2 separate regions of the Homo sapiens genome follow, and region 2 is linked to region 1. Evidence: fine-mapped expression QTL. A gene starts in region 1. The other region holds a variant in brackets. All regions are shown on one strand. Distances are from middle to middle.

Region 1 (2,824 bases):
CTTCTGCCACAGGGTGTGAAGCCATCTATGTTGTTTGCCCTTTGCTCTTGGCTACCTCTAAATAGTCATTTGTAAAAGAAAGAGGAAAATCACATCTTGCCCATCAGCTTTGTGTACATCATTCGAAAATTTTATCTTTAATATACAAAGAAAGTACAATCCTTCTTTGTGTGGTTACAGAGGGGAATGGTCACACTATGCTCTGGAAAGACATCATCTGGAAAACCAATAGGTAATTATTTTAATGTAAATATAGTGAAAAGCATCTTTATGTTTTAGAGTTTTGCTAATGCTTTCAGTGACTGCAACAAATTAACATACCACTTTCTTGCAACAACTCTATTCACTCTTCAGTTTATTTAAATGCCATTAGTTTTAGACTGAAGTTGATCTGTGGAAAATATATGTGTATAATACCAATTCAAAAAAATATATAAATTGTTTTGTTTGTTAAATGTATTGGAAATATTTAAGGCTTAGTTTCCAAGTGAGAAAAGGCAATAAACTTTAACTTTAAAATCAAGAATGTTCTGTGTGTCTATCTTCAAAAATCTAAGATTATTTCCGTTATCTATCTAGCTTTCTATCTTCTGATGAGCATTCAACAACAGCTTTATCTTTTCAATTAGTGACACCGTCTTAAATCACAGCAGCTCTTAGAAACAAAACTGGCACAAATACCCTCGCCTCTCAATGGATTTACATACTATCTTGATGTTGAAAAAAGTTGTAGACATGGAAAACAGCACAGTACAAGGGTGATGCTTATTTTATCTGGGGTTTATTGCATGGGCAGAGGCTGTCATTTTCCCATAGTGTCTTCATTTATTATGCTAATTGACTTTCCAAGCTCAGACTGGAGGGTGTCTGCCCTGTGAACTATTCTCAGTTGGAGGGTTTTAAAAGCAAACCTGTTTTGTGCCTGAATGAAACAAAAAATCAATGTGTTTCTTTTCAAAGAGGGAGGGTCAATACCGTGGTTGTTTTTGTTCCCATCCAGTTATGTAACCGTGGGGACTTGTTTCTTTGCTTTCAGGATTTGTACGAAACACATTAAAGTTAAACAATAGCGGAGGCTTAGGAGTAACCCTCGAGCTGCGCCTTGGAGTGTGTGTCCCTGGGATTGGGAACCTCCTGTGAGTTCCATATCAAGTGCTGCTGTGTGTGTGTGTGTGTGTGTGTGTGCGTGTGTGTGTGTGTGTGCGCGCGCGCGCGTGTGTGTGATTAGCCAGTACGCAGTACTTCCCCAGGGTTGTGTTTCCTTTTTCCTGAGATTTGGCGAAGGGTAAAGGGTCGGAGTCACATGGATACAAAGCTTTTGATTAATGTCCAAGTCACTGCTGTGGCTGCCGAAGCCGCTTCCCCTCCAGCCCCGGCCGTGTGAGGCCAGAGCAGCGGGGCCGGGCGCGCAGGGCCTGGCCGGAGCCCCCACTCCCAGGAGTTTCCTCTGCAGAGCCCCGCGCCCCCCGCGCCGGGATTTCAGCCCGATCCCCTCCTCTCCCTGCGCCCAGCCTCTCCCCAGCATGTAAAGTCTTCTGTCTCTCCTCGGAGTTGGCGGAGGCGGCAACTTTCCATTCTCGCCGCCGGGGGCCGGGCAGCAGCGGGCGCGCGGGTCAGCGCTCAGCACGGCGGGCAGCGCCGCGCTGCGCACCGCCGCCGACCATGAGCGAGGACAGCCGCGGAGACAGCCGCGCCGAGAGCGCCAAGGACCTGGAGAAGCAGCTTCGCCTGCGCGTGTGCGTGCTCAGCGAGCTCCAGAAGACCGAGCGGGACTATGTGGGCACGCTGGAGTTCCTGGTGTCGGTGAGTGTCCCCGGCAGACGCAGGGGGACGTCCGGGCGGCGCGGGGCGCGGGTCCCGGAGTGGCTGCGGGAAGGACGCGCGGCATTGTCTGTGCGGGGACCCGGGACGGGTCGGGGCATCACAGGCGCGGGAATCCACGTGTGGACTCTGCGTTCGCGGGCGCGGTGACCCCCGCGGGGATTTGTTGGTGCCCCGAGACTCACTGAGTTGCGGGGGCCTTGGAGACCTCCAGGTCTGAAAAGTTAGCTCTAGAGAAGAGAGCTCCAGTCCAGGGAATCCCGGCTGCCCTATCTTCCCTCACTTTTCTTTTACCCGCCTCCCCAGTCTGCTCAAGTGCACTGTGTAATTGATTTTCCTTCTTGTTCTTTCCTGGAGACTTTGTTTTAAAGCTTTGGTTTTGTGATTAAAGGTCCAGTCGGCTACATCCAGGTACACTAAGTTAAAAAAAATCCTTGAATGTGCTCGAGCTTGAGTTCGTTACTCAGATAACATGGCAGTGGCCGCTTTAGTTATGGTCTTTGAGACAGAGGATTCTGGTGTAGGGGTACAGAGAGAGCAGCGGGGTGATGATCTCTAGCAGCTGTTGGATATTAAAGCCACATGTGGCGCTCACCCTGTCCTAGTCTTACAATTCCCTCCCCCCCGCCCCCCGCCCCGGCTTAAATCTGTCTTCTGCTCAGTTTCTGGTCCCCTGTTTACATGGCCCATGAGAGTGCTGTAATCAAGCTTCGGGACTTCGTGGAAGTGGGGATGTACTTATATTCCACGTTTCTGCTTGACTCACTGCCATCTGCTTTGAAAACGTCTCATTCATTTTAGGGCCGAAGGGGCAAAACTGAGTGAAAGTAACTGCTGAGATAACACTCAAAAGTTGAATTTTTCCTATTCATTGCTGAAAAGACAAAGAATTTGAGCCTTGGCTTCTTTCCACCCAGATTCCTGGGAGAGCATCATTCAAAGAACCAGGAGCTTTAGTTTTTGTGATCTCATCCAAATCCTTCTCCTTCCAACAACCAATTCC
Region 2 (2,824 bases), 110 kb before region 1:
TCGAGCCTCTTACTTGGAGAATCCTTTCCTCCCCTCCCCTCCCCTCCTTTTTTCTCTCTTCTCCCCTCCTCTCCTCTCCTCCCCTCTCTTCTCTTCTTTTCCTTCCCTCCCTTCTTTCCTCCCTACCTCCATTCCTTCCTTCCTCCCTTCCTCCTCTCCTCCCTTCCTCCCCTTTTGCCTTCCTTCCTCCCTCCCTTCCTTCCTTCCTGTTTTATTTTTGCTTGCTATGTTATAGACCAAGGGAAAAAGAGAAGTTTCTTTTTAGGTATCCATTGGGAAAATGATATTTTCTTCACAAATTACTCTCTAGACAGTTGTCACATCTGATTCTTTTCAGTGTGCCTAGGAGCCCCAATCTGTCTTGAACAAACTATCCTTTATCTTAACTACTCTTTCAAATACTTCAAAAAACACCCTCGTATCTCTTTAGCTTTGTACTCCTTTCTCTCTCCATGGAAGAGACCACTGGCTCTGGAGCCTGTGGCCAATTTTGTCCTTAGTCTTCAATATTCAAGTGCTTCTGCTCTACGTCAACCTCACTCTGACTTTGTGTCTCAATTTTCATAGTTGGGGGTTAACACCCAGCTCTCTGTTTGTCCTCTCATTCCAGCAGCCTCATGACCCATTCCTCTTGCTGGAGCCCCTGCATCAAATACCTGTCTAATGTGCTGGTCACCTGGAACAGGTCACGCCTCATCCTTGTCAATTCTCACTCCTTGGAAGGTGAAACGTCAGATGTGCATAATGCTGTCTGTTGCCTGGATCTCTACAGATTGTTGGCTCACATTCACCCTTTGGGTCGTCTAATTTTGATAATATTCTTTTACTTCTTTAGGCCAGCCTGATGTCAGCTCCTGGCCTAGCTTTCCATCTGTTGATTGTCATTACCTTGTCTGGAATCCATCTACCTAAATAAACTTATTACCATTTTGGAAAGTGGGTCTGGCCACCAAGTAGGTATTTCTAGCTCCAGACCTTGACTTTTCTGTTCTGTCCAATCTATTGAAAGGTGTTCAAGCTCTCGACCTCGTTCCCCATCCCCATACCTGAATCCAGGCTTCCCCATGGTGATGCCATTGTTTTGTGCCACTCAGTTGCGACTCTTGCCCTGATTCACTTGGTAGGAAGAAGAGGCTCAAACCTTTGTCTACACTGGTGCTTCCAGACCATGTATCTCTTCACCATTTTGCTTTACATCTGCACTTGCAAATGCTAAATCCTTTATCTGGCCCTTGTCCCCTCAAGCCTGATCTATTGCAGTTCACTCCAACTGTTTTGTCTGCCTTGTTTTTTCCACTCTCTTCACACACCTATTCGCCTATGATACTCTGTCAAAGTTATCTCTCTAAAAGAAAACAGAAACAAAAACAAACATCTTTTCTGCTAAGAACTCCCTCTCCTGCTCAAAGTCCCCAGTGGTTTTCTATTTCTTGGAAGGAATCATGATCCTTGTCCTGAAGTCATGGCTGCCTCCTGGTTTTGATGTGCCCATTGATGTTGACTTAGCTGTCCTTTTGCAAAATGTGCGTAGGAATGTCATTCCATCAAGGCAAGCCTTTGAGAAGATGACACATAAAAGTTGTTTGGAGACTTTTGAGCATCTCATTTGTCACATAAATATTTAGTAATAGCAATAGTAAACATAA[C/A]CCTGTTCCCAAGGAGAAATAATTGAGAACTGACCCTGACTGCAGTATCTGGAGGATGACAGATCTTGTTGTTCTTTGATCACAGAACTTTGTCATACGTATACATCTAGCACATATCACTGTAGTATGGTGTGAGTGCTACATGTCATGGGTTATAAGATCACAAAATTCAATGAAAGGAAGGAAGTATAGGAAAAGTAATGAGATCGTCTAAGTAATAAATGCAGTGTGACAGTCATGGCATTGAAGATGAAATCAAATATGCATGGTTAATAGCATTGGTGGAAACTTCCTCTTCTGCTAGATGTTTTATTCTTAATAAATCTTAACCAGATGCATGTATGTTTGCTACATTGCCATTTTAATGTGAAACTGACTTTTCTAACCAACTCTTTTCCTGCAATACTTAGTATCAGTTGCTACCATCCCTGACCAGCATGATATCATATGGAAGTTGTTTTTGACTGAGGAAAATTTTCAATGTATCAGTCATGTAAAATGAATACAGATAACTCATCATGCTTATTCTGTCATTCGATTCTGGCCTGTCTGTAACCCTACTTTAGTTTTCATTATACTTACCCCTTGAATGAATTAAGAAAAACTTGTTAAAATTACTCGTGAACAGTTTGCTCCGATGCTATAAGCAAAGTATTTGATAGATTAGTAGCTCTGACTCTCAGATGCAAAATTCATGAACTTGAATTCTTTTTCCAACTTTTTTTTCCCTAGGTCTTTCACATGTTCCTGACCTTGATTTTAAATTTTAACTTAGCTCTACTGAATCTATGATATTTGGACTATGTGCTAATTGTCAAATTAAAGGTACTTTCTTCTCACATAATGATGCCTTTTGTACATTATAAAGTAAAAGGAGAAGACTATACATCCATTTTTAAATGCTCTAATTTCTTTCTAACATTCTTAAATTGATATGCCATTGTTGTACATTTTTGGTGGGCACATAACTGCTCTAATTTCTTACACACATACATATAACAACATGTCAATGGTTGTTATCCTCCAGTGATGGTGGTATGGTAGCAGACATTTGTGGTTTGGCTCCCATCCCCATTCTTTCTCCTTCAGGCTTTAGCCCCCAGTCTCACTAATGGTATCAAGGTCTCCACTACTTGTAGCCCTTGTGGTCTGGGAAGTGGGTTCCACCCCTGGTTCCC

Which allele goes with the higher level. Positions count from the first base shown, and alleles are read on the strand shown. Sizes are in standard deviations (SD) of each study's normalised expression.
In carriers of allele C in region 2, the expression in pancreas of the gene that starts at base 1,314 in region 1 tends to be higher than with A alone (large effect, 1.1 SD a copy in GTEx).

What was found. PIP is the estimated chance that this variant, and not a neighbour inherited with it, causes the effect.
Region 2: its variant is fine-mapped to the expression of PREX2 in pancreas (GTEx, PIP 0.97).

Annotation. Positions count from the first base shown.
Region 1 is chr8:67,950,733-67,953,556 of GRCh38, forward strand. PREX2 (phosphatidylinositol-3,4,5-trisphosphate dependent Rac exchange factor 2) reads left to right here and starts at 1,314. Exons shown (of 40, transcript NM_024870.4): 1 at 1,314-1,803. The coding sequence starts at 1,663.
Region 2 is chr8:67,836,429-67,839,252 of GRCh38, forward strand. No RefSeq gene overlaps it. Among named protein-coding and RNA genes, the nearest start is that of CPA6, 91 kb to the left of the region's middle. The variant C/A (reference allele first, on the strand shown) is at 1,647.